Regions from separate parts of the Homo sapiens genome. Here regions 2, 3 and 4 are each linked to region 1. The links come from fine-mapping of genetic effects on gene expression. A gene starts in region 1. Each other region holds a variant in brackets. All regions are shown on one strand. Distances are between the middles of the regions.

Region 1 (8,109 bases):
CCCATCACGGGCATCCCTTTCTGAAGTTGTTTGTATGTTCTTATCGGCTCCTGTTTAGCCCCATCTGTTGCTACTATAATTTGAAGCTTATTTCTAGAATATTGGCCCATAATCACTTAAATGACCTTGCTTTAGGGTCAGGATCATTGCTAAAGGGTGGTGTTCTACCTGTGGGAATCCCATCCCCTCATTCTCGGTGTTTGCCTTAACTAAGCCCTATTTTTGCCATTCCTTTTAGATACAATGACTTCCCTGCTGGAATTCATTTTCCTTATCACTCCAAGCTGGGTCTTTCTGTTTGCCTTTCAATTTCTCTGGGATTTTTATTGTCTTGTGATGGCCTTCTTCCTGTGGGCTCAGGAGCAGCGGGTCGGGAATGGAGTTCTCAAGGATCTAAATCTCTCCTCCTTTACCTGCCACAAGGATTTCTCTTCCTTTTCCTGTCCAATGGGAGCCACTCAATTTTAATATCCTCCTACTCAATGGATTTGTTAATTTTAATTCCAGTCAATACATGCCCTTTTCTTTCCTTATGAAACAGCCACGACCTAAACTTAATGAGGGAAATTTCAAGAGGAAGTACCAAACCAATTCCAAATAACAGGTGTTTCACAAACATTAATCTTATATAATAAGCTTCATTTTTCCTCTAGCAAGAGAAGTTACTAACCAAGTCCCTTCATAGGTAGGGGTAGAAAATTACCTGGTAATCATTGATGGTGGTCTTTCCTAGGAGTGTAGCTGTAAGGAGAGGGCCCCCAATTGTCCTGGTCAGAGTCTGTGGTTTGAGATCAATGAGATGATAAAAATTAGAGCCAATATTGTCTCAGCTCTCTTGGGGCCAACTTGTACCCTGGAGGTGGTTGTGTGTGTTGAGCACCAGAGCTGTCATGGTCTGGGTGAAGACCCAAGATCATGTTAGAGACTGGCCTGCTGGAAAAGGGCTCTTCTTCAGCATTCACTCTAACTGCCAGAGACAAGGAGTCTCCATCACTATCTCCATCACAGTATTCCTGATGGATCTTTCAGGATAGATGTCCTGGAAGGAATGATGTCTCGCCGCCCTGTGGCCTATCCCAAGTGCTGCCACATACCTGAGTGTCTTCTTGTCTTCAGCTAGAGAGAACCAATCACTTAGACTCTCATCCTGGACCCCATGCAGTGGCATCATAGTACACAGTAATACTGATCTTTGTGATGTAAGTTGCTTTTTCCTTACATCTCTAAGGCTACAGAGAATTCAAGATTATATCATCTGAAGGTGCCATTAGGACAAATTATTCTTTGCAGATATATTTTATTATTCGATACCCAAGCATACCATAAGCATGCTATCCCTTCCTTGTGACTTCTCTTCCTGTCTTCATAGGTCTAAGACTAATAACATAGTCACTGCTCTTTGAGAAACCCAAGATGGTTCAGCTGCCTGAATACATACAGCCTACAAAGATCTGCTCACCCTGCCCATCCACTGCTGGGTATTATACTCACAAAGGCTTTGGTTTTGAAGTGAAAAAAAATATATAACTCGATAATTTTCTCAGTATTACTGAGACTGTTCCATCCTATCTAATTATCTAGGAAAGTCAGAAAAAATCAGGCCAAATATTTCCTCAGGCTCCATTGCCAGTGCCCACCCAACACATTTTGTTTTATTTTCAGCTAAGGCAATTGTGGAGACAGATACTGGCATTCCAATTCTATGTGATATTTTTTAAACCATTAGGCTTCTCTGACGTGGAAATCCAGGCTCTACCAGAGGCCATGATGAAGAATGCAGAATGGACAAGCTCTCATAGAGAAAATCTGTGTTTTAGGACAAGAGAGAAAGCAGATACATACCAAACCATATATTGTGGACTGGGAGCCAGCAATGTTAAGAAACAAAACACAGTGATTGAGGCAAAGGAAATCAGAAGGAAAGCCTTACTCTTAAATAGATACGTATTTTTATTTTACAGGTTTTTTTTTTCCTCGAGTCTGTGCAGAATAACTGAAAATACGACCAATCTGAAAACAACAGTATTTATATGTTTACAGGGAGGTGACCGGGGCTAAAACAAATACTAGATTTGTGAGCAAAAGAAATCATTTTACCTCTCTGAGACTCCGGAAAAGTAATAGTACCAATCTAATGGTTAAAAAGACTAAATGAAGTAGTATATAAAGCTCCTAGAATACTGCCAGTAGAAATAAGCACTAAATAAATGTTGCTCTTATCTCACATAGTTATTATGAGAATTAGGCAATTAAAGCACTTAGTATAGAGCCTAGGTTATAGTAAATGCCAATACGTGTTAGGTAGCTAAAAAAATTAATCGATCAAATCATATAGGGGGAACTACAGTCCTGAAAACAAAGAAGCCCACTTATAACCCTTGCCATGCAGTCCAGGGTTCACAAAAACCTGGGTCTTACCAGACAGCTGCCCACCTGGTAGCTATATTGCCCCTATTCATGCCTCTTCCTCAGCAAGTTTCTATGTCCAAATCCACATTACCCCACATGTAGTCACAAGGACTTGGAAATATCAGCCTTTCCGCCTGTTTATGTGTAAAACGAGGTAATAATTCATTTTTAGAAGGATAGTTACAAAGAAGATTAACAGCATCTAGCTTGCAGTAGACCGTAGCTCACAGACCACCATTCTCCTTTGTTAAGAAAGACAGTGAAATCATTGGCTATGTGGTCTTGCCAACAAACCATACATGAAAAAATTATCTTGAGGCATTCACTGTATTTGGATTCTTATACCAATACCATTGTATTTGGATTTCATATACCAATGGGATATATGAAAACCTTCTCCGTTTTTTGTCTTGTAAGCTGGTTCCGAATAAACAAAATGTCTGTTTCTCTAGATACCCGGGGTTAACCCTTCAAAGCATTATGATCACAGAGCATTTCAGCTCTCTCAAGTGTAGCTTCAGCTTTAACTGATCCTTCATGGCTTCCCCCAGGCAAGGGCTAGGAGGGAGAAAGGGGCTGCATAACAAAGAGGAGACGCAGGAGCTCTCCCGGAGAAAGCGAGCCTGGAAATCTGTATCTCCGCCGCAGCTTTTGGTGCCAATATGGAACCAATACAGCATTTCTCTTTCCCTTTTGGGGGCAGTTTAAAATAGGCTGTGCCTCCCCAGTTTTGGGAGCTGGAGCCAGTGAGCCGAGCCGAGCCTGCCCGGAGGATGCGCCAGCTTCGTCAGCGCGGATCAAGAGCCCCCGGAGCCCCGGCCTGGTGCATCTTTTTTTCAGGCAATTGGAATGGAGAATCTGGACGCCAGCAGCTGCCTGTAAACCACCCTTTGGAAGGCAAAATCCGTTTCTCAGCAAGAGAAAGCGCTTAGAGAAAAGCGCTGCCATCAACACCGCTGATCTAGTCCCCGGACCAGATTGTGGCAAGAGCCGAAGCTCCGCGCCTTCCACTCGCCGCCCGCCCCAGGGCCACCGGCTCAACATCGCCTGCCCTGCGCCCTCCTTCCCAAGCCCCGGCCCCGCTCACCAGCCTCTCCATCCTTGCTCCTGGAGGCGCGCGCGAGGTGGCTGACTGCGGATGTGCGCCTGGAGCTCTGCTAGGCAGGCGGGAGGAGCGTCACCTGTGCCCCTGCCGCACCTCCCGCCTCTTCCTCCTCGCTAGCCCCCTTCTCCCACTCCGTTTTCCCCACGCCCTCACAGGAGCGGAGGCTGTCTGTGTGGGGGGAATTAAATGATGTTTATATTCAGCTTTGTCTATTTTCAGACATTTTTCCCTTTTCAAAGGTGACCGCTGGGGAAACTGACAAAGTGTTTGGAAAAAAAAAATCATTTTTTTTTTTCCATTTTCCTGCTACCTGGACTGAGAAAGGAAATGAGGTGGGAGGTTGTGGAGATCAGTTGTTGACCTGTTAGCTCTTGATGTAGTGGCAAAGGATTCAAGCTGAATTTAACCAATGGACTTTTTTTTTTTTTTAAAGAAAAAACTTACATTTATTATTTTTAAATCCAGATTCAAATTATATATTTAAGCAATTCCGTAATGATTTCACCTTTCATGATGTGATCAATTCTTTGGTGAAGAGTTTCCTTCCACTTGCATTAATGATGAGGATTCTTTTTTCCCTTCTCCTTCTCCTTCTTCTCCTTCTTCTTCTTCTTGAGACGGAGTCTCGCTCTGTGGTCCAGGCTGGAGTGCAGTGGCGCTATCTTGGCTCACTACAAGCTCCGCCTCCCGGGTTCCCGCCATTCTCCTGCCTCAGCCTCCCGAGTAGCTGGGACTACAGACGCCCGCCACCATGCCCGGCTAATTTTTTGTATTTTTAGTAGAGACGGGGTTTCACCATGTTAGCCAGGATGGTCTCGGTCTCTTGACCTCGTGATCCGCCCGCCTCGGCCTCCCAAAATGCTGGGATTACAGGCGTGAGCCACTGCGCCCGGCCCTCCTCCTCCTCTTCCTCCTTCTCCGTCTCCTTCTCCTTCTCCTTCTCCTCCTTCTCCTTCTCCTCCTCCCCCTCCCCCTCCTCCTCCTCCTTCGTCTTCTTCTTCTTGTTCCAGAGTTCTTGGCTCTTAAAAAAAAAAAAAAAAGGACAAAGAAATCATCAAGTGTTCACCTCCTGAAGGCTTTTGTGTTTTACTACTACCACCCTCTCATAAGGAGCTGGGACAAAGCTTTGGGGTTTTGTTTTTGCTTCTTTTTACAGACAAAGTCTCGCTCTGTTGTCCAAGCTGGAATGCAGTGGTGCGATCATAACTCACTCCTGGGCTCAAGGGATCCTCTCACCTCAGCCTCTAGAGTAGCTAGAATGATAGTTGTGCAGCCACTATGTCCAGCTTTTTTTTTTTTTCCAGACACGGGGTCTTGTGTTGCCCAGGCTGGCCTGAAATTCCTAGCCTCAAATGCTCCTTCTACCTTTGCCTCCCAAAGCAGTGGGATTACAGGCATGAACCACTGCACCTGACCTATTCTCCCACTTCTTTTTTTGGGGGGGGGGCGGTGGGAGACGGGGGCGGAGTCTCGCTCTGTCGTCCAGGCTGGAGTGCAGTGGCGCGATCTCGGCTCACTGCAAGCTCTGCCTCCTGGGTTCACGCCATTCTCCTGCCTCAGCCTCCGAAGTAGCTGGGACTACAGGCGCCCGCCACCACGCCCGGCTAATTTTTTTTGTATTTTTAGTAGAGACGGGGTTTCACCGTTTAGCCAGGATGGTCTCGATCTCCTGACTTCATGATTCGCCCGTCTCAGCCTCCCAAAGTTGTGGGAATTACAGGCGTGAGCCACCGCGCCCGGCCCCTATTCTCCTACTTCTAACACCATAGACTAGGCTCACCTGATTTTGAATTTTATATGAATGGCATCGTAGCATATGTCTTCACTTGTTTCTGGGTTTTTTACTCAACAGTAGATTTTAAAAATCCATCCATGTTATTGCCTGTAGTGTGGCTTATTCATTCTCACTGATGTATAGTATCCTATTCTGTAAATACTGTCTATTACAATTTATTTATCTATTCTTCTATTAATTAACATTTCTTTGTTTTTCAAATTGGAAGCATTTTTCATAGTGGTGCTATAAACATTCTTATACCTGTCTTTTCACAAGCATATGTACATCATTCTATTACATTTATTTTTCCCATATATTTTCCTATCACTTTATTTTTAACCTTCCTCTATTAGAGAAATATTAACTGCACACTTGGAAAAAAAATTCTCCCACCTTGGCCTCCCAAACTACTGGGATTACAGTTGTGAGCCACTGCACCCGGCCTTAACCTATTTGTATGTTGTAATTACTGATATAATAGGACTTTTAATTTTTTTATATTTTATTTTAGTATATTTTCTTCTGTCTTATCTTTCATTAAGCTAAATATTATCTTGCTACATTAAGAGTTATATTTTATTATTCTGCTGTTTTCTCCTAACTTACTAAGGACAATGCATATATTTATTTTTTTAAGTCAATTTCTTAAATTTCCCAACACGTATACCTTAGCATAATTCTCCTCACCTCTCATAATCTTATTTTCTAATTTTTTAAAAATAAAATCTTACATTTATTATTTTAAAATCCAGATTCAAATTATATAGTTAAGCAACCAGTTTCATAATGATTGAGGCCAGGAGTTCAAGATCATACTGGGCAACATAGTGAGACCCCTGTCTCTACCAAAAAATAAAAATAAATTACCTGAACATGGTGGCACATGTCTGTAGTCCCAGCTAATCAGGAGGCTGAGATGGGAGGATTGCTTAAGCTCGGGAGGTTGAGGCTGAAGTGAGCCATGATGGAGACACTGCACTCTAGCCTGGGTGATGCAGTGAAACACTATTTCAAAAAAAAAAATAGCTTAAAAACAACATTTTTAGGTTAAAAGAGACTTGGGACACAGAAGAGTGAACAAAAGGGGAAAAACTCCCAGCCATAATGAAGCATAAACATTGTATTAAAAACCCTTTGAAAAAGAAGAAATTTGCTTACATAATTTTTTTTAAAGAAAGGTCTGCAGGAAAAAGAAAAAAATGACATTTAAAATTATTGGACAGATTTAAAGGAGCATTCAGAATTAATATATCACCTTAACTATATCAGATGTCAATATTGAGCAAAAGAAGCAAACAAGGAACTCAACAAAATGAGAAGAAAAAAAATAATAAAACTAAAGGCAGAAATCAATAAAAACGAACACAAATAGAATAAATATAATTTTTTTAGAGATTAATTGATCAAACGGGTGGCATGTAATACTCAGAAAATTATTTCTGTAATACTCAGAAAATTATTACTGTAATACAGAGTAACAATATAGAATGAAAAGGGAGAATTAATACTGATGCAACAAATAGCAAAAATAACAAAACAATATTGTGAACAGTAATATGAAAACTTACACAAAATGAATAAATTTCTGAAAGTGGCAAATTGGCCATAAAAATTTAAAAATTAAATAGGCCAATAAATTAGTAAGCAAGTAAATCAAAATCAAAGACTTGTTTTGCAAAATAAATAAATAAATAACAGACCTAGAGGATTGTTGAGGAATAGATCTATCTTATTCATGTTCAAAAGGGAGAATTATAAAATTACTAAGATCTTTCTTTGAGGCTAGTGTTATTTTAATTTTAAAGCCAGGAAAGGATAATCCAAGAAAATAAAATTATAGTCCTCTTTTACTTATAAATATAAAGCAGAACAATTTCCAAAATGGCTTAACATTAGAAAACTGTCAGTATAATTTATTATATTAGTAAATTGCTATGAAAAATTCATGATTATCTCAACAAGTACCAATAAATTTTTTCTTAAGTTCAACAACATATTTATCATAAAAGCAAAGGAGATAAGAATAAGAAAATATTTCCTAACCTTATGCTTAGTGATCAAACTGCAGTAAATGTCATATTCAACTGTAAGGAAATTTTAGACATGGTCTTTTAAATCGGAAACAAGAAAAAGATAACTGTTATTGCAGGTATTAAATATAAAAAGAGGTGTCGATTGGAAAGAAAGAAGCAAAACTGTCATTAGTTGTAAGAGAGAGAATCAACTTCATGAAAAACAATCAAAATCAACAGAAAAACTTAAATACAGAGTTTAGCACAGTTTCCAAATATTGGTTAACTTAAAAAATCCAAAAATGTTCCTAAACCACTAATAATAACCAGCTAGAAATTTTTTAAAATATCATTAATTATAGTGAATAAATTAAAAGTACCAAAGAATTAACCTAGCAAAAATTACACCTACATTGAGAAAATTGTAAAGCCTTCCTAAAAGACATTTAGAAAGACTTGAATAAATGGATAATATATTTATGGCTGAAGGAAATTCCACTATAAAGACATCAATGCCCCAAACTCAAACTTATTAACAACTTATAGTTTGACTTAACATTGTTAAATCCATCTACTTTTTATCCACAAAAAGTGGACTTTTGGTTTTCCATTAAATACTTCTGTTCCCCTAACAGTATAACTGAAAAATGTAATAGAGTGATGCCAAACAGGGAGAAGTAATCTATATCTAGTATGTAAAGGATCTAAGATATAAAAAATTTCTGGCTGGGTGCGGTGGCTCACCCCTGTAATTCCAGCACTTTGGGAGGCCGAGGCAGGAGGATCATTTGAGGTCAGGAGTTCGA
Region 2 (8,109 bases), 88 kb before region 1:
AGCTATTCCAGACCAGAAATACCAGAAAGCCTCATGGACCAGATTAAAATGCTTGAATTACATGGTTTATTAAATCAACTTAAAAACACACAGCAAGAAACAAGTGGAAAGAGTTAAGTTAACATACTTAAGTTAGAAAAGTCCAAAAGAGAAGCTAAAAAAAGAAAGATTGCATTATTTTCAGACAATTTAATGCAACAGAAAATAATCCTAGGTATGATAATAGAGCCCTAGGATAACACTGTATTGTGGTTTAAGCAAATCACTAATATTCATAATAATGACCAGAAATGGAAATGAAAATATATGATTGTATTCTTTAGGTTTGCAAAAAGGCAAAACAGGTTTATAATTTATTTTAGGAAGAATTCCATTCAATACGCTTTTTAAAAATCTAGGTGACTAAAAGTTTGACTTTTTCATGAGTACAGACTAGGATTTATTTTTCAGCTCTGTCACTCACTGTGTGACACTGCATAATCTAAATCATATATCTGAGCTGTCATTTCTTCAACTAGGAAATGGTAAGGGTAATACATTTCTGAAATAGTTATCATGACAATTCAATAAATTTATTCATGTATGATGCTTAGGATAATATTAGTTGCTATTATTAATATTACTAAAAATGTTTTTCTTGAGTTTTCCTAAATTCATTGTGTGTATAATTTTAATGGTTACAAAATATTTTGTCATACAGTTTTAATTTAAACTACTAAATCAATCTCAATCAGATACTGGCAGGAGTTTTTGTTTTTCAGAAATGGATAACATTAATCTGAAATTTATATGAAAATGTAAAAGTTTAGAAATGGGCAAGGCAAGCCTGAGGAAGAAGAAGAAAAAAAACTAGAGGACTTGTACTAAACATAAAGATCTGTTAAAAACCATAGTTAATTATACTCTTATATATATTTAGTAGTTAAGACAGTGTGGCTCAAATATAGATTAAAATTACCAATGGTAGAGAATAGAGAGTTCAGAAGCAGATTCATCTGATTTATGAAAAATATGATATAGCGGTGCAGTGAGAAATGGATGGGACCATTGGATATTCACATGGAAAAAGCACATATCAACTTCTTCCTCACAAAAATAAATTTCAGAACAATTACATATCAATGTGAAAGATAAACAAATAAGGCTTTTAGAATCATCAATGCTATATATGTGAATTGTCAGGCCTCTGAGCCCAAGCCAAGCCATCGCATCCCCTGTGACTTGCACGTATATGCCCAGATGGCCTGAAGTAACTGAAGAATCACAAAAGAAGTGAATATGCCCTGCCCCACCTTAACTGATGACATTCCACCACAAAAGAAGTGTAAATGGCCGGTCCTTGCCTTAAGTGATGACATTACCTTGTGAAAGTCCTTTCCCTGGCTCATCCTGGCTCAAAAAGCACCCCCACTGAGCACCTTGCGACTCCCCACTCCTGCCCACCAGAGAACAAACCCTCTTTGACTGTAATTTTCCTTTACCTACCCAAATCCTATAAAACGGCCCCACCCCTATCTCCCTTCGCTGACTCTCTTTTCGGACTCAGCCCACCTGCACCCAGGTGAAATAAACAGCCATGTTGCTCACACAAAGCCTGTTTGGTGGTCTCTTCACACAGACGCGCATGAAATTTGGTGCCGTGACTCGGATCGGGGGACCTCCCTTGGGAGATCAATCCCCCGTCCTCCTGCTCTTTGCTCCGTGAGAAAGATCCACCTACGACCTCAGGTCCTGAGATCGACCAGCCCAAGAAACATCTCACCAATTTCAAATCCGGTAAGCGGCCTCTTTTTACTCTCTTCTCCAACTTCCCTCACTATCCCTCAACCTCTTTCTCCTTTCAATCTTGGCGCTACACTTCAATCTCTCCCTTCTCTTAATTTCAATTCCTTTCATTTTCTGGTAGAGACAAAAGAGACACGTTTTATCCGTGGACCCAAAACTCCGGCGCCGGTCACAGACTGGGAAGGCAGCCTTCCCTTGGTGTTTAATCATTGCAGGGATGCCTCTCTGATTATACACCCACGTTTCAAGGGTGTCAGAACACGCAGGGACGCCTGCCTTGGTCCTTCACCCTTAACGGCAAGTCCCGCTTTTCTGGGGAAGGGGCACGTACCTCAACCCCTTCTCTCCTTGTCTCTACCCCTTCTCTGCTTTCCTGGGGCAGGGGCAAGTACCCCTCAACCCCTTCTCCTTCACCCTTAGCGGCAAGTCCTGCTTTCCTAGGGGGCAAGAACCCCCCAATCGCTTATTTCCGCACCCCAACCTCTTATCTCTGTGCTCCAATCCCTTATTTCTGCACCCCAACCTCTTATCTCTGTGCCCCAATCCCTTATTTCCACACCCCAACCTCATATCTCTGCGCCCCATCCCTTATTTCTGTGCCCTGACCTCTTATCTCTGTGCTCCAACCCCTTTTCCCACTTTTCTGGAAGGTAAGAACCCCCGAACCCCTTCCCTCCATTTCTCTACTCTCTTTTCTCTAGGCTTCCTTCCTTCACTATGGGCAAACTTCCACCCTCCATTCCTCCTTCTACTCCCTTGGCCTGTGTTCTCAAAAACTTAAAACCTCTTCAACTCATACCTGACCTAAAACCTAAATGCCTTATTTTCTTCTGCAATGCCACTTGACCCCAGTACAAACTCGACAGTAGTTCCAAATAGCCAGAAAATGGCACTTTGAATTTTTCCACCCTGCAAGATCTAAATAATTCTTGTCGTAAAATAGGCAAATGGTCTGAGGTGCCTGACGTCCAGGCATTCTTTTACACATCAGTCCCATCCTAGTCTCTGTGCCCAGTGCAACTCGTCCCAAATCTTCCTTCTTTCCCTCCCGCCTGTCCGCTCAGTACCAACCCCAAGTGTTGCTGAGTCTTTCTAATCTTCCTTTTCTACAGACCCATCTGACCTCTCCCTTCCTCCCCAGCCTGCTCCTCGCCAGGCTGAGCTAGGTCTCAATTCTTCCTCAGCCTCTGCTCCTCCACCCTATAATCTTTTTATCACCTCCCCTCCTCACACCTGGTCTGACTTACAGTTTCGTTCCGTGACTAGCCCTCCCCCACCTGCCCAGCAATTTACTCTTAAAAAGGTGGCTGGAGCCAAAGGCATAGTCAAGATTAATGCTCCTTTTTCTTTATCCCAAATCAGATAGCGTTTAGGCTCTTTTTCATCAAATATAAAAATCCAGCCCAGTTCATGACTTGTTTGGCAGCAACCCTGAGACACTTTACAGTCCTAGACCCTAAAAGGCAAAAGACCGTCTTATTCTCAAAATACATTTTATTACCCAATCTGCTCCTGACACTAAAACTCCAAAAATTAAATTCCGGCCCTCAAACCCCACAACAAGATTTAATTAACCTCGCCTTCAAGGCGTACAATAATAGAAAAAAGTTGCAATGTTCCTTGCCTCCACTGTGAGACAAACCCCAGCCACATCTCCAGCACACAAGAACTTCCAAACACCTGAACCGCAGTGGCCAGGCGTTCCTCCAGAACCTCCTCCCCCAGGAGCTTGCTACACGTGCCGGAAATCTGGCCACTGGGCCAAGGAATGCCCGCAGCCCAGGATTCCTCCTAAGCCGCGTCCCATCTGTGTGGGACCCCACTGAAAATCGGACTGTTCAACTCACCTGGCAGCCACTCCCAGAGGCCCTGGAACTCTGGCCCAAGGCTCTCTGACTGACTCCTTCCCAGATCTTCTCGGCTTAGTGGCTGAAGACTGACACTGCCCGATCGCCTCGTGAGCCCCCTAGACCATCACGGATGCCGAGCTTCGGGTAACTCTCACAGTGGAAGGTAAGCCCGTCCCCTTCTTAATCAATACGGAGGCTACTCACTCCCCATTACCTTCTTTTCAAGGGCCTGTTTCCCTTGCCTCCATAACTGTTGTGGGTATTGACGGCCAGGCTTCTAAACCTCTTAAAACTCCCCAACTCTGGTGCCAACTTAGACAATACTCTTTTAAGCACTCCTTTTTAGTTATCCCCACCTGCCCAGTTCCCTTATTAGGCTGAGACACTTTAACTAAATTATCTGCTTCCCTGACTATCCTGGACTACAGCTATATCTCATTGCCGCCCTTCTTCCCAATCCAAAGCCTCCTTTGCGTCCTCCTCTTCTATCCCCCCACCTTAACCCACAAGTATAAGATACCTCTACTCCCTCCTTGGCGACCAATCATGCACCCCTTACCATCTCATTAAAACCTAATCACCCTTACCCCACTCAACGCCAATATCCCATCCCGCAGCACGCTTTAAAAAGATTAAAGCCTGTTATCACTCGCCTGCTACAGTATGGCCTTTTAAAGCCTATAAACTCTCCTTACAATTCCCCCATTTTACCTGTCCTAAAACCAGACAACCCTTACAAGTTAGTTCAGGATCTGCGCCTTATCAACCAAATTGTTTTGCCTATCCACCCCATGCTGCCAAACCCATATACTCTCCTATCCTCAATACCTGCCTCTACAACCCATTATTCTGTTCTAGATCTCAAACATGCTTTCTTTACTATTCCTTTGCACCTTTAATCCCAGCCTCTCTTCGCTTTCACTTGGACTGACCCTGACACCCATCAAGCTCAGCAAATTACCTAGGCTGTACTGCCGCAAAGCTTCACAGACAGCCCCCATTACTTCAATCAAGCCCAAATTTCTTCCTCATCTGTTACCTATCTCGGCATAATTCTCATAAAAACATACGTGCTCTCCCTGCCAATCGTGTCCGACTGATCTCTCAAACCCCAGCACCTTCTACAAAACAACAACTCCTTTCCTTCCTAGGCATGGTTAG[C/T]GTGGTCAGAATTCTTACACAAGAGCCAGGACCACACTCTGTAGCCTTTCTGTCCAAACAACTTGACCTTACTGTTTTAGCCTAGCCCTCATGTCTGCGTGCAGCGGCTGCCGCTGCTTTAATACTTTTAGAGGCCCTCAAAATCACAAACTATGCTCAACTCACTCTCTACAGTTCTCATAACTTCCAAAATCTATTTTCTTCCTCATACCTGACACATATACTTTCTGCTTCCCGGCTCCTTCAGCTGTACTCACTCCTTGTTGAGTCTCCCACAATTACCGTTGTTCCTGGCCCAGACTTCAATCTGGCCTCCCACATTATTCCTGATACCACACCTGACCCCCATGACTATCTCTCTGATCCACCTGACATTCACCCCATTTCCCCATATTTCCTTCTTTCCTGTTCCTCACCCCGATCACGCTTGATTTATTGATGGTGGTTCCACCAGGCCTAATCGCCACACACCAGCAAAGGCAGGCTATGCTATAGTACAAGCCACTAGCCTGCCTCTCAGAACCTCTCATTTCCTTTCCATCGTGGAAATCTATCCTCAAGGAAATAATTTCTCAGTGTTCCATCTGCTGTTCTACTATTCCTCAGGGATTATTCAGGCCCCCTCCCTTCCTTACACATCAAGCTCGAGGATTTGCCCCCACCCAGGACTGGCAAATTAGCTTTATTCAACATGTCCCAAGTCAGGAAACTAAAATTTTAATCTCTCCCACTCTAGGTTCCCACGCCGCCCCTAATCCCGCTCGAAGCAGCCCTGAGAAACATCGCCCATTCTCTCTCCATATCACCCCCCAAAAATTTTTGCCACCCCAACACTTCAACACTATTTTGTTTTATTTTTCTTATTAATATAAGACGGCAGGAATGTCAGGCCTCTGAGCCCAAGCCAAGCCATCGCATCCCCTGTGACTTGCACGTATATGCCCAGATGGCCTGAAGTAACTGAAGAATCACAAAAGAAGTGAATATGCTCTGCCCCACCTTAACTGATGACCTTCCACCACAAAAGAAGTGTAAATGGCCGGTCCTTGCTTTAAGTGATGACATTACCTTGTGAAAGTCCTTTTCCTGGCTCATCCTGGCTCAAAAATCACCCCCACTGAGCACCTTGCAACCCCCACTCCTGCCTGCCAGAGAACAAACCCTCTTTGACTGTAATTTTCCTTTACCTACCCAAATCCTATAAAACGGCCCCACCCTTATCTCCCTTCGCTGACTCTCTTTTCGGACTCAGCCCGCCTGCACCCAGGTGAAATAAACAGCCACGTTGCTCACACAAAGCCTGTTTGGTGGTCTCTTCACACGGACGCGCATGAAATGAATAAGTTTGGTTTTTTTAATAGTAGAGTTTAATAGGAGTATTAAAAGAGTAGAATAACCCCAGACAAATGTTTTTTGAGAGATTAAAAGGTGTCAGGGATGGGAAGCCAGATACTCCTGGGTGACAAGTTCATGGAAATAATTAATGTGATTTTGTTACTGGGAAGAGCAGAGTCCTCTGTTCTTAGGCTTACTTGTAAGAAAGAATCCTACCAAGAGACCACTTAGCCCAAAAAGAGAATTTATTGAAGCAAAATTAGAGCACAGAGTTTATTTAGACAGACAGTACACTCCAAAAGATGAGGCACAGTGGGCTACTAACAGAGAATGAGCCAGCAGTAGCCTCAAGAGTTCTGCATTGGGTTTTTATGACGGATTTTTTCTTGAAGTTCTCATCTCTGTGTTAAGTCTCCACCTTTTTCCTTCATCTAGTTTTTCCTGCTGCTGCCTTAAGTCCTTGCCTTTTCCCTGCCTAGTTCCTGCCTCAGATTTGTGGGATTCTGTCTATTAGTTGGCGTGCATGTGTGGACCTTGTGTTGGACACAAATTCTACCTAATGGCTACATTGCTCATTACCATCACCCCAGGAAGGCTGTATGGCAGTTAAATCTGTACTTTTTATGCCTGCATATCTCTTAGGAATTTCTCCTTCACCCTCTTTCCCTCTTTATTAGCATGTAGCTAGCTACATTCCGACAGGTTAATTGCAGAGTGGGTGATTACTGGGTGTCTTAAGGGGGCGATTCTTCCCACATAAGTATTTCCCCATCTCTTTGCTTATATCCAGCCTACATGTTTTGGGTGGTCCCTGGGGTGTGAGATTTTCCATACTTCCCTTTTCCTCAGTGGCTCCCCTCCTCTTGCTGCTTATGTCTAGCTATCTGCCTACTCTGACAATTTCTTCCTACTACAATTAATATGAAAGAGAATTAATTAATTCATTCATTCACTCATATAACAAATACTACCTGAGTGACAACTATGTCCCAAGCATTGTTCTAGGTGCTGAGGATATAGTAATGAACAAGGTAGTTAGTTTCCCCTTTCATGGCTCACTTATGAGGCAGACATGGAGACAACAGAAAGGAATAAATAGATAAATAAATGATGAAGAAATAAAATTCAGTAGTGAAATTGAGACAATGAATCAATACATTCAGTGATGAAACAGAGAGTGACCAGTAGTTCCTATAGATGGAGTGGTCAGGGAAGGCCTCTGTGGGGACATAGGAAGTCACCTGTCACCTGAATGGCAAGAATCCCGCTGCTGGGTGTGTACCCACATGGTGTTATGAAGTGTATTGGTTTTCATGGATGGATTCTGGCTCATAACTCCCAAAGCCCTTGTTACAATCTTTTGTTACAATGTTGGGTATGTTAGGCCTCAGGGGTGGGCCTCTAACCTTCTTCTGCCCTCCTTTCACTTGACCCAAAGCAAGACTCTAATCTTAGCTTGACTTTCTGATTGTGGGTCTTACGGCCCTCCCATGACGGGAGTCCCACCCTATACCCTGGGGGAAGGAATGCTGACATCATGAAAATCTAAGGGCACATGGTTCAGAGAGTTCTTGGATACCTGAACACATGGAGGTACCTGCAGGGTGGTGTTCCTAGGGATGGCATGGAAGCTCCACACCCCTTCCCCTACACCTCATCCCACATGTCTCTTTATTTTTATTCTTTGCAATATCCTTTATAGTAAACCAGTAAATGTAAGTAAGTGTTTCCTTGAATTTTCGGAGCCACTTCAGCAAATTAATTGAACTCAAAGAGAGGGTCATGGGAACGAACCCCAACTTGAAGCTGGTTGGTCAGAAGTTACAGAGGCCCAGACTGGTGTGGTGGGGGAAGGGCATGGGGACTGAGCCCTCAACTTGGGGGATATGACACTATCTTTGGGTAGCGTCGAACGGAATTAACAGCTGATGTCTGCTGCTTGGTGTGTGGGGAAAAGAATCCCACACAAATGGTCACA
Region 3 (8,109 bases), 29 kb before region 1:
TTAAAAGTATTAAAGTATCTTTGGGGTATCTATGGAGTGTTTTTCAGGGGAAAAGTCATATGAGCCATGCAGGTACCTGCAGAAAGAACATTCCAGGCAGAGAGAAGAGGAAATGCCAAGGCTCTGAGATGGAAACATGTCTGAAATGTTGGTGAAATAGCCGGCAGACTAGTGATCAGGAGAGAGAGTAGGAGGTGACTTCAGAGATTATCAGTGAGCCCATTGTCTAGAGCCTTATAGCCCACGTAAAGACTTTGGCTTGTATTCTAGGTGAGATGGGAAGCACTTGGAAATTTTAGGCAGGAGAATTATGTGATTTGACTTGACATATTTTAGAACAGTTATGTTTCGAATAGACTGAAAGAGGAAGAACACGGAAGCATGAAGATTAATTAGAAAGCAATAACAATGATCTAGGAAACAAATAATAATGGTTTGGGTCAGGTGTAAGAATGGAGGTAGGAGCTGGATTCTGAATATAAGTACAGAACAAATAGGTTACGCTGGCAAGTAAGATTGAGATAAATCACTGCAGGGTGGGCAGAAAAGAGAGTTCACTAGACAGGAAGCTGGGATTTCTGAGTTGGAGTTTTGGCCAAAAACACATTTACAATGCTACTGGAAGAAAGTCGCTGAAAAGTATGAAAGTCACTGAAAAGTATGAAGTCACTGAAAAGTATGATTTTTCACACCTACAAAAATGGGGTTAATTACCTTCAGGACCTCACAAGACAAATGATTATGACATCTGTGTAAATGTTGGTTTGCTTGGATTGAGTCACTGCTCTATGTGACTTTGTGCAAGTGAATTATTAGCCTGAGCAACTGTGGAGGGAAGGATGAAATCAAATCTGGAATATTTTGAGAACAAACAAAAAATAAAAATATCACCGCTGTGAAGAAATAATTTAAGAAGCTTTATTTTAAAAGGCAAAGGCCGAGCAAAGTCACTCACCTCTTTAATCCCAGACAGGAGGATTTCTTGAAGCCAGGAATTTGAGACAAGCCTGGGCATCATAGTGAGACCTTATCTCAACAAAAAATAAAAAGTTAGCTAGGCATGGTGATGTGTGCCTGTAGTCCTAGCTACTCAGGAGTATGAGGCAGGAGGATCGCTTGAACCCAGGATTTCAAGGCTGCAGTGAGCTATGATGGCACCACTGCACTCCAGCCTGGGTGACACAGTGAGACCCTGTCTCTACAACAAAAATTAAATAAAATACTCTTTCTGAGCTCAGAATAGCCATAGAAGAAAGTTCAAAAAAATTATTTTAATCAAAGCCTTATGATTCCTAGTAGTAATATGGATTTTGTACTCTTTGAACCTAGATTTATGAATTGTTATCAAGGCACGGATTGAGGAATACAAACCAAAAAGAAAACATAAAATGACAAAAAAACCCCTTCATTTGCAGTTTCAGTTTCAGTTAAACACAACAGTCTTCTTCTGTTTTCTCCTCTCTCTAAGCAGGTTTGCACTACTCTGGAATTTTTCTGAATTTTTACTAAGAAGAGAAATACATGACTGAGTTATTCTAAGGGACTCAAAAGTTTACAACTTTCCCAATCTGCTTAAATATGCAAAGCCCAAGCTACCTCTTTCTAATTCACAAATACAAAAAAGCACCCATAGTTGAAAGTTTAGGATAAGTATGGAAGGGTTGGTGAGCAGCCAGCCAGGGTGAGAGGGCAGGAGACATAGAGGAGAAAGCAAGGCTGTGGTGTTCCACATGGAGCCACCTTCTCAGCAGAGAGGCATGCTCTCAATTACCCTTTCCTTCTCCCCTTTATTTCTCTATAACCTCCCAAGTCTTCCCCATAAAACATACCTATCCTAAGTCCAAGTATCTCAACATCCTGAAAAGTAACTGAAAAGCCATTTAATAAGCCAATTTAAATTGAATTATTAACAATAGATAAAAATTAGTCTTTGAGCTTTCTCTGCATTTTGAGGAGGAGCTCCCAGTAATACAATGGCCTAAAGTCCTGGTTAAAAGGTGAAATGCTTAGGTACCATGAAGATAGATGTTTAGCAAGGAGTTCCTTTGAGAAAGACTCATGAAATCTTCCCATAAGGTGGTTTTCTTCTTTGCCAATACTTTAAAACAGTAGTCTTTAGCATTGTCCCTAAGACCATCTCAGGGGGTCCACATAATCAAAAAATTATTGTCATGATAACACCAATAAATTATTTGACTTTTTCACTCTCATTCTCTAATAAATGTGCTCTGAAGTCTTCCAGAAGCTATATGATGTTTGATGTTGGCATCACTCTGATGGCTAATAGGATATATGGTTACACATTTTTGTATTTAAATTTTATCAGTTTTAATTTCAAATATGATAAATATCAACAGATATAATTCACATTACAGAAAAAGCTCTTTGGGATCCTCAATGATGTTTTCAAATGCATAAAGGGGTCCTAAGACCAAAATGTTTAAGAACTGTTGCATTAAGTCATCCTGCCTGATCTAGTACCAATTTAGCAGAGATACTAGAAATACAGCAAAATACAAGGGGTTGGTTCCCACTAAATTCAAAACTATGTGAGCTAATCTGTCTGCAAAGGTTGGTATCTAAAAGCAAAATCAAAAGAACACATATAAAGAAGTGCTGCAGAACTGACAGGGTCATGTCAAAAGGACATAGGCACCAACTCAAAGGAGCTCACACCGGCCAGACATCTGATTTGTGTTTTTGTGATTAGTCAGAAACACCAGCTTATCTTTTTTTTTTTTTTTTTTTTTTTGAGACCGAGTCTCGCTCTGTTGCCCAGGCTGGAGTGCAGTGGCGCTATCTCGGCTCACTGCAAGCTCCGCCTCCTGGGTTCACGCCATTCTCCTGCCTCAGCCTCCCGAGTAGCTGGGACTATAGGCGCCCGGCTAATTTTTTGTATTTTTAGTAGAGACGGGGTTTCACCGTGTTAGCCAGGATGGTCTCGATCTCCTGACCTCGAGATCCGCCCGCCTCGGCCTCCCAAAGTACTGGGATTGCAGGCTTGAGCCACCGCGCCCAGCCCAGCTCATCTTTTAGGAGGGGAAAGATAGAGAGGAGGGGAGGGTTTTACATATGATGGGAAAAGACAAGGATTATCATTCATTTCCACATTTCCCAAGAGAATATCATAAGCCAAATATTTGGAGTCAACACTTTTAATTGTTCAATATTTTACTACAAATATAAGAAACAATACAGAATTAAATAACACATGAAAATCTTGCTATATATATATATAAATATCCAATTTAACAGCGAAAACAACTTACACTTTAATTCCTAGGCCACTGGATAGACACAGACAAAGCAGAAGATACTGAAAAAGCAACTAATTATGGTTATTAAAGATTCAACATCATTCCACTAGCTGGAACAATATCTTTAGAACAAAGGGATTGTATGCTCATATTTGCCTCCTCTGCTATTGGGAAAAGTTAACG[C/T]ATGGAAAAAGAAGCCAGCAGAGACAAAGCATATGAATTGGCTGACTGCTATACAGGAAATCTCCTAAACATCTGTTTTCATAATGTATTTTCATTATATGAGGCTGAATTTAGAATGACGTAAAATAGGGCTGGGTCATGTTATAAGACAAATGGACAGGGAGGGCATGCTTCTCAAAAAATGTGAGCTATTGTCTAAGACTAACAATATTTATCTAGCTATAAAAATAAGTTAAATGAATAAGTTAAGATTGCCAATGTTACTTCACAATAAATTCAGTCCTATTTGTGTTGGAGTAAATCTCATAGAAGCACATGAAGAACAGCAGTGAAACCAAGGATTCTAGCAAGGCCAGCTATTAGCAAAGCAGTAAGCAGGAACTGGACTAGATACCAAATGATGGGGAAACAGACTCATAGACCTAAGAACATAGGAAGAAGAGATGTAACATCAACAGAAAGGCAAAAGGTAAGCTCTCTGTATTCTTTCTTCTCTCTCTCTTTCAATTCTTCCCCCTTTGCTTATTCCCTTTTTTTTTCTGGAATTACATTTTAAATTAAGTTTTAGAGCTATGTGGTAAATTATTTGGTCCAATTCCTTTATACTTTGGATGAGGTAAAGTGACTAACAGAGGTCCCCACCAGTAGGAGCCCAAGTCAGTCTGTGAGCTCAGTGCTCCTGATACTAACTAAGTCCAGTGCCCTTTCAACCACATAACATGGCATTGCTTTACAAAATCAAGTCCTACAACAGACCTGAGAGGTAAACTGACTTCCTCTTGGGATTCAAACACTGAGTAGCTCAGATGGCAGTAAAAAGTCGTGGGATCCTTAAGGCTTTCGCTCCCACCTCTTTTGCTCTTTCAGGTCCTTTGGAGAATGGCCCCTTTTCCTCCTGCTTTTCTCTTGTGTCAAATTCAAGTAGACCAGGGAATCACTTTCAGGGTGCTGTGTGACTTATTTAGGGCTCTGGATAAAAGAAAAACAAGGTATTAACTTTGGACACTTGTAAATTCTATCATAATACATTTTAAGAAGATAAATAATAGAGAGATTAAGAAACACAGAGTTATTCTAGTGTATATTCATTGGCAAAGATAAAGAAGTAGACATTTCTGACCCAGTATGGTGTGAGGGGACTATGACTCTTTACAAGAACAAAAGTAGGCTGGATGCAGTGGCTTGTGGCTGTAAGCCCAGTGTTTTAGGAGGCCGAGGCGGGAGGATCATTTGAGCCCAGAAGTTCAAGACCAGTCTGGGCAACATAGTAAGACCTTGTCTCTACAAAAAATAAAAATAAAAAAAAAAATAGCTGGACATGGTGGCATGCACCTGTAGTCCCAGCTACTCAGGAGGCTGAGGCGTGAGGATAACTTGAGCTCAGGAGATTGGGGCTGCAGTGAGCTATGATCTCACCACCGCACTCCAGCCCCAGGCAATATAGCAAGACACTATCTCTAAAAACAACAAAACAACAACAACCAAAAACAAAAACAAAACTGAAGCAAAAATAAAAGGGCATACGTAATCCTAGGAAATAATGGTTTAGAAAATCACCTAAGACTACAAGTAAAGGAATATGTTCAAAAATTCCAAATGATCAAAATGTATTCTATTTGTAAGCTTTGTTTCTGATGGATAATAACTCACTGGATGTCAGGGTAGAAATGGTCACGAAGTAGAGGCCTTTCCAAGGGCTAGTGGCTTTCTGGCACATACTGGGAGCCTGGAAACCTCTCAAGGCACATAGACGATGAAGTAAAAGACTTGGAATTTTATCTTGGCACCACCTCTCACTCTCTGTGTAATCTTAGGTAATTGTTTACCAGAACCTGCAAAGTTCTGCACATTTTAGATCCTGCCCAATATTTCTAACATCAGATATCAATGGACCATGGAAAGACCATCTTCTCCCAACATGGCTCAATATTTTTCAATTTCAATAGTAAAAACGAATTACTAGAAAAATGACATAAAATAACATAATTCATTTTTAAATTATCAGATTTAACAGATATAAAATTACTGTCAAATTCTTATCATAGAGTGTAAGCATTTTTTCTCAGTTATGTACTTATTTTACTTCAGACTAGTAAAGAACACTTCTTGGATGGGCAACCATCCTCAGACCATATTGGGAGTAACACTGCTCTAAAATATATACATATATATATATATTTTTTTTAGATGAAGTCTCACTGTGTCAACCAAGCTAGAGTGCAGTGGCGCAATCTCTGCTCCCTGTAACCTCCACCTCCTAGGTTCAAGTGATTCTCCTGCCTCAGCCTCCTGAGTAGCTGGGAGTACAGGCACATGCCACTATGCCCGGCTAATTTTCATATTTTCAGTAGAGATGGGGTTTCACTATGTTGGCCAGGCTGGTCTTGAACTCCTGACCTCAGGTGATCTGCCTGCCTCAGCCTCCCAAAGTGCTGGGATTACAGACATGTGCCACCGCACCCTGTAAAATATTAATGACTTTTCTGCCTTAGAGCTTTCACATTTGCAATTAATTTGCTAAAAACCACTCTTCCCTTGTCTCCTCCATGGCTGGATTATTCTCTCCTTGAAGGTCTCTGATTAAAAGTCACCACCTCAGCGAAGCCTTCCCTAACAAAATCCAAGTAACTGGTATCCTTTTCAAGTTATCCTCTTTCATTGCATGCTATATTTTATATTATTCTATATTATTTCCTTGTGCTAAAATCTCGTGTTTTAATAGTATCCTTATTTGTTGATTCACTTGTCATTTCTCTGCTGTCCCCCTAACCTGTCATCTCCATTAAAATGACAAGGTCCTGTTTTGTTCATTATAGTATAATAACCAGTGCTAATTACAATGCCAAGCATATTAAAAATTATTAATAAATACTTATAAAATGAATGAATTGAACTTCTGTGAATTTGGTTTTATCACCTATCAGATGGAAATACTTTCCTTATCAATTGCTATGAGAATTAAATGTAATAACTTCCAGGTCTAGTCCTTTTGTCTCATGAACATCCATTTAAATATTTAAGAACACCCTCCATGCCCTCCTTTCATCCCCACTTACAAAGTTTTATCTTCTGAAATCTAAGTGCTGTTTTCCCTGAGTGGTGAGACTATGCATTTTGAACTATCAATTACCAATAACAGAATTTATAATTCTTATATGACCTAACTACTGACTGGAATCCAGAATAATAATCTAAATGATAGCATGGTTTCCTTTAAAGATCACTAGTATACATTTTTGTTGTTGTTGTTTGTCTGTTTTTTTTAAAAAAAGCTCTTAAATTAAGCCTGACTTTGAATGGTTGATTACTTGATTCTGCATCTGGTCTGAAGAAGTTTTTCCTTTCTCTAAAATAAAGTTTCTATATATCTTTCTCCCTCCATCGCCTCAAAGGCCATGCTTTACTCACAGCCCTTGCCAGAGCAAAACCTTTTAGGATTCTTCTAAACTCTAGAATACCTAAGGACTACCTGAAGTACCGGTTAATTTGCAAAAACACAGGACACTTGTAGAGAATGTGATTCTTTGTCTTTTTGTGTGGTTCAGGAATATACTTTCGTTTTGTTTCTCTCTTTCTTTCTCTCTCTTTCTTTCCTCTCACTTTTCTTTCTTTCTCTCTTTTGTTTCTTGTTGGATTGGGTAATCTATGAAGCAAGGTATGAGGGAACAAAAATAGTAAGATAAGTTTAAAACATATGGAATAGAGAGTGAAGAAGTTGTTTAGTGCAGAGAAGACAGAACAGCCAAGTTGTGGTAAGGACAGGAGAAACTAGATGCAAAACTCATGAATCAGTGCTGATGGGGAACCTAGGGCAGCTTTGGATCTACAAGCACCTTCAGGTAGCCGCTCTTCCTGACATGCGGCAGTTTAGTTTCCTGGAAATCCATTTATACACATCCTTACAGGAACTGCCCTCCCTCTACCCTTGACTCGCACTAGCTTCAGTGAGTAATTTTTCTTCCCATACTCCTACAAAAAAAATGTCTAAGCAAAACAGTTTCTCTTCTTCAAAAAGAGATACAACTGCACTAGCAGGAAATCAGTTTTCGGCATCACAAGTTCATCTAGGCATCACAAGTTCATTTCAGTATACGCACGTTTTTAGAATGCACATTTTCTGATTCTGTCTCCCCAGTGGGTCCCCACAAATTTCTCCCAAGACTGCTACTGAAATGACTTATATAGCAGGTCCTCCAACAACATCCTTTCATTCCACAACATGTTGTTATAATGTTGATGAGAAAAACAACAGATTCCCATCCAGGACCACTGTGTGGGAGTTAGCACATCCTCCCCAAGTCTGCATGGGTTTTCTCTGGATACTCTGGTTCCCCCCACATCCCAAACACGTACTGCATGTTATGTAAATTGGCATGTCCAAATGGTCCCAGTCTGAGTAACTGTGTGTGTGTGCGTGTGCGTGTGTGTGCGCGTGTGTGAATGCCCCCTGCTCTGGGATGACGTCCTGTCTGGTGTCAGTGTCTGCCTTGCATCCTGAGCTGCATAGGCTCTGGCCACCCATACCCTTGAACTGAAATCATTGAGTGAATAATTATCTCACTTGTTTTTGTTACTGTTTCTTAAATGTATGCATAACTCACATTTATTTCAATGTTTAATATTAGAAATGTTTTGGTCTTTATTAAAAGTTTGGTGATGTTTTTGTGAC
Region 4 (8,109 bases), 42 kb before region 1:
TAAGCCCAGTAGAGAATTCTCAGCATTTCTGACAGTTTGGAAGACAGGTACTTAATGGACTATAGCCTCCTCGGCAATGTCTGGGAGACCTGTGATATAAAGTGGAGTCTGGACATTAAAAAAAGAGAGAAAAGGAGAAGAGAAGGTAGAAAAGAAAAGTGTACCATAGAGACAAAGAAAAGAAGTAAATGCATATGTTCCAGTAGAGTGGCCTTGGGCCTCAGTGGAGTTCAAGCAAAGGTGTCCATTCTTGGAATATCCTGCTAAGACTGTGGTCTCTTAATCATGTCTAATTTTACTACCACATTTTAAAATATGGTAAAGAATATCTTAGTTCATTTTGTGTTGCTATAAAGGAATGCCTGAAGTTGGGTAGTTTAGGAAGGAAAAAAGGTTTATTTGGCTCACAATTCTGATTGCTGGAAAATTCATGATTGGGCACCCACATGTGGTGAGGGCCTTAGGCTGCCTCCACTCATGACAGAAAGTGAAGGGGTGATGATGTGTGCAGAGATCACATAGCGACAGAGGAAGCAAGAGAAGGGGGCAGATTCCAGGCTCATTTTAACAACTAGCTCTCTCAGAAACTAATATAGTGAGAATTCACTCACCCCCAAGGGAGGACATTAATCTATTCACGAGGGATCTGCCCCCATGACCGAAACACCTCCCATTCGGCCCCACCTCCAACATTAAGGATCAAATTTCAACATGAGATTGAAAAGCATAACAAAGAACAAGTAAAGGAAAACTGAAAATGTGGGTTATATCAAAGTCAAACTGTGAAATTTGAGAACTGCATTTATTTAATCCTACTGACCTTTAGTTTCCTCCCCTGTAAAATGTGAATAGTGGTACAATATTGTAGATTCATTGCAAAGATAAAGCCATATAAGTTGAGTTCATAGCACAGTATCTGGCTCATAAAGAGATAGCAAATGCATCATCTCCTTCCTCTCTCCTTAAAAAATTTGTTTTATTTTGCAGTTATTTTCTAAAATTTGATTCTGTAAAATCTTTTTTGTGTTGACAATTCCAAAAGAAATTGATGTCAACATAGTTCTGCCAAGTTGCTCAAAAAGCAGGAGGAGGGCAGAAACATGAAGTAGAGATAATTTGCTTTCTGTGACCAACCTCTCATCCCCAAATCCCCAGTAGAATCCTAGATACATGAGTGATACATGGTGGTGATATGCCCCAGAGATTTGGTGGTGGTTTATAACACAGTCATGGCATTAGATAACTGACACAGTCATCATGGGTGAATTGCACAGAGTCAGAGGAAGTAGTATCAAATGAAGCTGATAAAGTGGCTAGAGGCCAGATTGTTGACCCTGTTACAGATCTTAGCTATCTTAAGAACAGTGGAAGCCATTGGAGAATATGAATCAGAGTTACGTAACATCATTATCAGAATTTAGAAAGATTACTTGGGTGTGTTGTAAAGAATGGATTGGCAATATTTCAGACAAGCAATGATAATGTCTAGAATAAAGGCAGTAGCAGTAGAGATGCAGAGATGTATATTTTATATTTAGGATGTTACAGTAATAAGGCTTTGATCAAAGTCCTATTTCATCAAATGGAAACAAATGGGGAAGTATTATGCATTCCTGCCAGATTTCTGGCTTGTGTGTATGATGGTTAATATTGAGTGTCAACTTGATGGAATTGAAAAGTGCAAAGTACTGTTCCTGGATGTGTTTGTGAGGGTGCTGCCAAAGGAGATTAAAATTTGAATCAGTGGGCTGAGAGAGGCAGACCACCCTCAATCTGAGTGGGTGCAATCTAATCAGCTGCCAGAAAGACTAGAATAAAGCAGGCAGAAGAAGGTGGGAGGAGCCGACTTGCTGAGTCTTCCGGTCTTTATCTTTCTCCCGTGCTGGATGCTTCCTGCCCTTGAATATCAGACACCAAGTTCTAAAGCTTTTGGACTGTGAGACTTATACCGGTGGTTTGTCAAGGGCTCTTGGGCCTTTGGCCACAGACTGAAGGCTGCACTGTCAGCTTCCCTACTTTTGAGGTTTTTGGACTTGGACTGACTTCCCTGCTCCTCAGCTTGCAGACAGCCTACTGTGGGACTTCAACTTGTGATCGCATGAGTCAATACTTGTTAATAAACTCCCCTTCATATATACATCTATCCTATTAGTCCTGTCCCTCTAGTGAACCCTGTGCCCAAATGGATGATGACACCATCCCCTGTTGATATGGACAGGAAACAGGGAAACACTAGGTAGAAGAGGGTGGTTCCCTGGCAAAGGCCCCTATCTCAAGCCTGAAGTCCTGTGGTCCTAAATGGGGACAGGCATTTCTGTTTTCATGTGAAGAAGTTGCCTTTTGGCCCACCATGCCCTCTATCCTGTATTCATATAAGCCCCAGGCTCCAGAAGCAGATGAGAAGATGAGGAGACAAGCAGATGGATTGCAAAATGGTGCAATAGAGAAAGAGAAAAGAAGAGGAATGTCTGAACACTGAGAGATTTCCAGCTGGGGTGGTCAGAGAAGGGTTCAGCCACAAGATGGCCAAAATCCAGGGAAGATCTTCTTCCCACTCCATTCCCTGCTTCTTGTTCCCCATCCATCCCACTGAGAGCCACCTCTACCACTCAATAAAACCTCTCATTCATCCTTCAAGCCCGTGTGTGACCTGATTTTTCCAAGATGCTGGGCAAGAGCTCAGGACACAGAAAGCTGTTGAACTGCCCCTCTGCCCTTGCAGAAAGGCAGAGAGTCCACTGAGCTGATTAACACCCAAGCCATTCGTGGATGGCAAGGCTAAAAGGGCACATTGTAACACACTCCACTTAGGCTCCTTCACCTGCCTGTCTGTGTGCTCCCCCTCCCCTAAGGGGTTTGAGGAGTGCTGGTGACTGAACAGGCGAGCCACACCCATCATATGTCCTTCGAGGGGGATCAGGGAACTCTCCTGTTTCACTGTAATAGAGAAAACTGGAGGAGGACCAGTTATGGGACTGGGAAAGACCAGGAGTTCAGCTTTGGACCTGTTCAGTTTGAGTTGCCTGTAAGTCAGCCAGTGGAGATGTTTTGTAGACAGCTGGATACATATATCTGAGCTCCAAGGAGTTAGAAGTAGTAATTTTGGACTTGTGAGTGTATAGATCATAACTGAAGACATGGCATGGATGAGATCACACAGGGAAAGAGTACACTATGAGCAAACAAGACAGCCTCTATCCAAGTTTTCGAGAATTGCAAAATTTAAAAATTAAGTACAGGAGGTTGGGCTGGAAAGATGAGAAAATCAAGGGCACATCATATTACAGATGACAATGAATTTCAAGAAAGAGTCTAATGTGAGACATGTACAGAAGAGGTAAAGAAAAATCATTAAACTTAGTGATATGGAGGTCACTAGAGTCCTTCTAGAAAGCAAAAAATTGCTTAGAATTTCAAGGGGACCGTGGAGTTGTCCCCTTATGTATGCCCCTGAGCCCAGGTTAAGAACTCCTACCTGTGGATTCCAAACAGTCATCTAACAGGGTAACCTAACTGGATTCAAAGTATTAATTTTCTACTCTCTCAATGGCAAGAAAAATTGCTTAGCTAACTTTAATGTCATTTGAAACTATGTGATTTTGTGTCCCAGGCAGGCTAGAGGTTCAAAGAAAGAGGTTATATTAATATAAATAAGGCAGCTTCTTTATTTGTCCATCGGAAAGTCTGTTCGTCTGCAATCATAGAAAGCATTAGATAAATCAGCTGCAGGGAGATAGCTGTACAGATGCGAAGCTCTGCCTGATGATTCCAGCCTATTTTCCTGGCATAATCAACAGTGACTTATTCCTTCCCTGGAAACTAATCTTCCTGTTTGGACCAATTGTATTATTCTTAACCACACCGTAGGTTATGGGCAACAGCATGAGTAAAATCTGGGAATTCCTGAGATG[C/T]GCTTCCAAAAAACTATGGTCGGGAATATGTAAATCTGAATAAATAAGAGCATGAGTTTATAAAAATTTCCAGTTCCACCCAATAAACTCTCTTCCTCCCTTTTTTTAAGAGATAAGATCTCGCCCTGTCACCAGCCTCTCTCCCTTTTGACCATTGAACCACTGAAACCCAACTCCAATTACTGAAGCCAACTATTTCATAACTCAGTCTCTCACACTCTTGAGCAGATTCAATAATAGGAAAGTTTATCTTTCACTTTTTCTGTTTTGGTTCTGGTCCTGCTCTCTGGATCTTTGTGTTAGTTTCCTATGGCTGCCATAACAAATGACCACAAATATGGTGGCTGAAAATGATAGAAATTTATTCTCTCACAGTTCTAAAAGCAAGGTGTTTGCAGAACTACATTCCATCCAAAGGCTCTAGGGGCAGTCTGTTCTTACCTCCTCCAGCTTTTGATGGCTCCAGATGTTCCTCAGCGTGTGGCCACATCACTCTAATTTTTGCTTCTGTGGTCACATTGCCTTCTCCTGTCCTCTGTATGTCTCGTATAAGGACACTTTTTACTGGATTTAGGGCATGCCCAGATAATCCAGAATGATCTCATGTCTAGACTCTTAAATTATATCTGCACAGACTCACTTATGAAATAATATCATATTCATAGGTTCTGGGGATTAGGATGTAGACCTATATTTGGGGGGATACAATTCAACCCACTACCACCTCCAATGAACACATCTATTTTCTCTTTCATAGAACTGCTTTTTCAATGGTTGAAGAAGCTGTTAGATTTCCTCTTGTTCATATTAAGGAAAAAATGGCTGATGTTACTGAAGCTCTACAATGTTCCAGGCATGTGCCAAAATAATATTACAATGTTAGCGTCTATTTTTACTTCCTATTCATTACCATTTCCCTTTTGTGCGTTATAACAGGTGGGGTCTTTTTGCTCACTGCCTCAGGAAAAGGATGTGGCGAGGGAAAAAGAATAGTAACTTATTCTTATTTTACAAAATGCTAAAATCTCAAGCTTTTGGGTAAAGTGAATCAGCACACGTGTGGGGAGAGAGAAGGAACAGAGCAGAGACAGGGAGACGATCTATGGATCCCATGAAAGAGGGTGCATGGGTAGATGTGATTGTGCTCAAACTGTCAAATAGGATGCTGCAAGGAGCCTGGGGCAAGTCACAACAGAAGAATTACAATTTGGCTGGTGTGGTGGCTCACGCCTGTATTCCCAGCACTTTGGGAGGCCGAGGTGGGCGGATCACCTGAGGTCAAGAGTTTGAGACCAGCCTGGCCAACATGGTGAAACCCTGTCTCTACCAAAAAAAAAAAAAAAATTACCTGGGTGTGTTGGTGGGCACCCGTAATCCCAGTTACTTGGGAGGCTGAGGTAGGAGAATTGCTTGAACCCGGGAGGTGGAGGTTGAGGTGAGCCAAGATTGTGCCACTACACTCCAGCCTGGGAAACAGAGCAAGACTCCATCAAAAAAAAAAAAAAAGAAAGAAAAGAAAAGAAAAAAAGAATTACAGTTCAAAGCTCGGTTTTGGAGTGAAGCCATACACATTTTCAGAAAAACGAAATTATTTCCTTTTGAGAAACAGCTTTTGGCTTACAATTGAGCCCTGGAAGTCCTTGATCATTGGGATACCAAGTTACTTTTTGCCCATAATTATGAACTGTGTGATTGATCCACCCAGGCATAAAGTCGGGCGTTCCCAATGACAGTATATCATCAAACAGAATTAGTATATATAAACCTAGGCTTGAGAAAGGCCTGAAGATACTGGTCCTCAGGATTAAATTAAGTTGTATGGGCAACTGACCATTCTTTCGGTGTATGTAGTCCTGTTGCATAGTCACCTGTCTCTCAACTATTTCAACTGCCTCAGTGGGAATTCCCATGAACAGCTGAATAAGGAACACAACAATCTAGACTGATTTATGAAGCAATGAAATTCAATATTCCACCTCATACTCTTTCAGAATTTTTGCTTCCTTTCCTGACAGCTCTGAATGAAACCACCCATGAAGACCTTTCAGCCAAAACCAAAGTTGCATCATTATCTGTGTGTGTAATCTTGAGTAAAATGTATTTCTTCATCTGTAAAATATAGGGGTCAGACATGATAGTTCTGAGGCCTCTTAGCTCAATGATTTTACTATTATCTGATGGGGGCCCATATACGATTCAATGTGGAAAAAAATAACAGGAAATCCACTATTTGGATAGTGGGTACACTAGAAGTCCAATCCCCAATAGTACATAATATATCTGTGTATCAAACATGCATATGTACCCCTGAGTATAAAATATAATAAAATAAAAATAAATAAATATATAACAAAAAATAAAATAAACAAAAAATAAAATAAAACAAAAATTACAGAAACTGAATATATCACCCAATTCCTCTGTCCCCTTTGTGCTATGAAACAATGGCAAAACCAAGAAATTTCCTTGTTTATTCCTTTGATATAGCCTGCCATTGACCAGAATGAAATATATCAAATTTCTGTCTTTAGAATAAACCTGAGTCTACGGAGTCAGATATCTGACTGAGGGAAATATTCACCAATTCAATTGAATTCATCTAACATTAGATCGCACATCCTTTTAGTGTCAGGGTCAAAATGCAAAGGCACACTTCCTATATTGGAACAGCCTTCTGTGGTGTGAACCCAGCCTATGTTTCCAGTACATTGCATGTTCCTTTCTCTGCTGCCCACCCTAACGTCCAGCCTAATGCTTCCCTTCCTTAGCCTCACTTGGTGTTCCACACCTCCTGCCTCTGCATATGCTGATCTCTCTGCCTGGAATATTTGTCATCCTGTAGTCCAACATTGTCACAGTTTATATGACGACTTCCCACAGCATCTCTAGAGAAAGCATCTTGTCTTATTTATTTTATATCAATAGAGCCAAGCAGAATACCTTTCTCATAATTGATGCTCAATAAATATTAGTTGGAATGAATGCTCAACCATGTGATTAAGCCAGTAGTTCTTACCTCCTGAGTCTATCTCAGGATAGAAGCAGTTCTCTTTTCACTCCATTCCCTCCTTCTTCAGTTCTCTGAAGTGGATTCTTCATTTATTCTCTGTGCTTCATTGCTCACCATCAAACTTTTGAATATGTCAGTTAGGTGTCCTTCTCACTTTTATTTGTTTCTTCTAATAGAGGAATGATATTTCTACGTAGCTATACTACTAACCCCAAACATGACCTCAATCTACTCTTTCATTACCTTACAAACTAGTGAAGTGGACTGTTTAATGACTAAAGGCTGGACTTCAGGTATTACTTCCTGGAGACATTCGCAAAGAGGTTTTAATTAAAATCACTTCAAAAATTTCTAACACATCAAAATTCTTTTCATCTAGTAATATCTAGCTTTATAACTGAAGAAATTACTTAGCCTTCCCGAGCATCTAGGGTTTGTTATTGCTGTTTCTTTGTAAATGAAATAAGGGTACCTTTTTATAGAGATGTCATGGATATTAATTGACACAGTATGAACAGCAATAAACACTGCATCTGGTAAAATAGTAAAGTGATCAATAATGTTAGCTGTTTTAATTATTATTATTTTATAGCACTTTACAGTTTTCTATGTGTAACCAGGGACTCATCTGATGAATCCTCATAATCACATAGTTGGGTAGATATTATGTCAGGAAACCCAGACTTGGAAATGCTTGCCTCATATTTTCCACTATATTTGTTCATTTAAGGATTAATTTTGATTGCCCCTTATTTTCACCAAAGTAACTCGAAGCAGTTTCAAAATATATATACTTAAAAAGTAGTCACCTGGGAATATTGGAACCAAGAAAAGGTGAGCAATCATGTACCAACCATAATGGTAAATAAATTCCATTGACTGAGTACCATATTTGGCTCTTAAAACAAATTAATGGTGGCTTTTCTGGATGGTGGTGTAATGGACTAATATTTTTTATGTCTCTACTTCCTTTATTTTTATTCTTCTGTACTTAACAATTTTTTATAATGAGCATGTATTATTTTTAATAATCAGCAAGAAGCATCTTAATCGGACGTTGGCTTCTTGACCATCAAGGCAAGAAGGAAAATTAGTCATTTATAGTCACACATTACTTAATATTGGAGATGTGCTCTGAGAAATGTGTCGTTAGGTGATTTTGTCATTGGGCAAACATCATAGAGTATA

Direction of the effects. Positions count from the first base shown, and alleles are read on the strand shown. Sizes are in standard deviations (SD) of each study's normalised expression. Not every link is listed here.
In carriers of allele T in region 2, the expression in neutrophils of the gene that starts at base 3,565 in region 1 tends to be higher than with C alone (large effect, 1.2 SD a copy in BLUEPRINT).

The links. PIP is the estimated chance that this variant, and not a neighbour inherited with it, causes the effect.
Region 2: its variant is fine-mapped to the expression of CD200 in neutrophils (BLUEPRINT, PIP 0.95).
Region 3: its variant is fine-mapped to the expression of CD200 in skeletal muscle (GTEx, PIP above 0.99).
Region 4: its variant is fine-mapped to the expression of CD200 in lung (GTEx, PIP 0.99).

Annotation. Positions count from the first base shown.
Region 1 is chr3:112,328,612-112,336,720 of GRCh38, reverse strand. It overlaps CD200 (CD200 molecule), which reads right to left and starts at 3,565. Exons shown (of 6, transcript NM_005944.7): 1 at 3,497-3,565. The coding sequence starts at 3,508. It overlaps LOC105374042 (a long non-coding RNA gene), which reads right to left. Exons shown (of 5, transcript NR_147411.1): 4 at 7,335-7,375; 5 at 3,967-4,535. RefSeq lists enhancers at 728-1,487, 1,984-2,940, 2,941-3,898.
Region 2 is chr3:112,416,433-112,424,541 of GRCh38, reverse strand. No RefSeq gene overlaps it. Among named protein-coding and RNA genes, the nearest start is that of BTLA, 79 kb to the left of the region's middle. RefSeq lists enhancers at 938-1,790, 5,207-6,060, 6,061-6,914, 6,915-7,768. The variant C/T (reference allele first, on the strand shown) is at 4,797.
Region 3 is chr3:112,357,843-112,365,951 of GRCh38, reverse strand. CD200 (CD200 molecule) reads right to left here. Exons shown (of 6, transcript NM_005944.7): 6 at 3,140-4,409. The coding sequence ends at 4,402. Among named protein-coding and RNA genes, the nearest start is that of CD200, 29 kb to the right of the region's middle. RefSeq lists an enhancer at 7,121-7,190. The variant C/T (reference allele first, on the strand shown) is at 3,441.
Region 4 is chr3:112,370,369-112,378,477 of GRCh38, reverse strand. It overlaps LOC105374041 (a long non-coding RNA gene), which reads left to right. Exons shown (of 4, transcript XR_924334.3): 4 at 2,378-2,637. Among named protein-coding and RNA genes, the nearest start is that of CD200, 41 kb to the right of the region's middle. The variant C/T (reference allele first, on the strand shown) is at 3,912.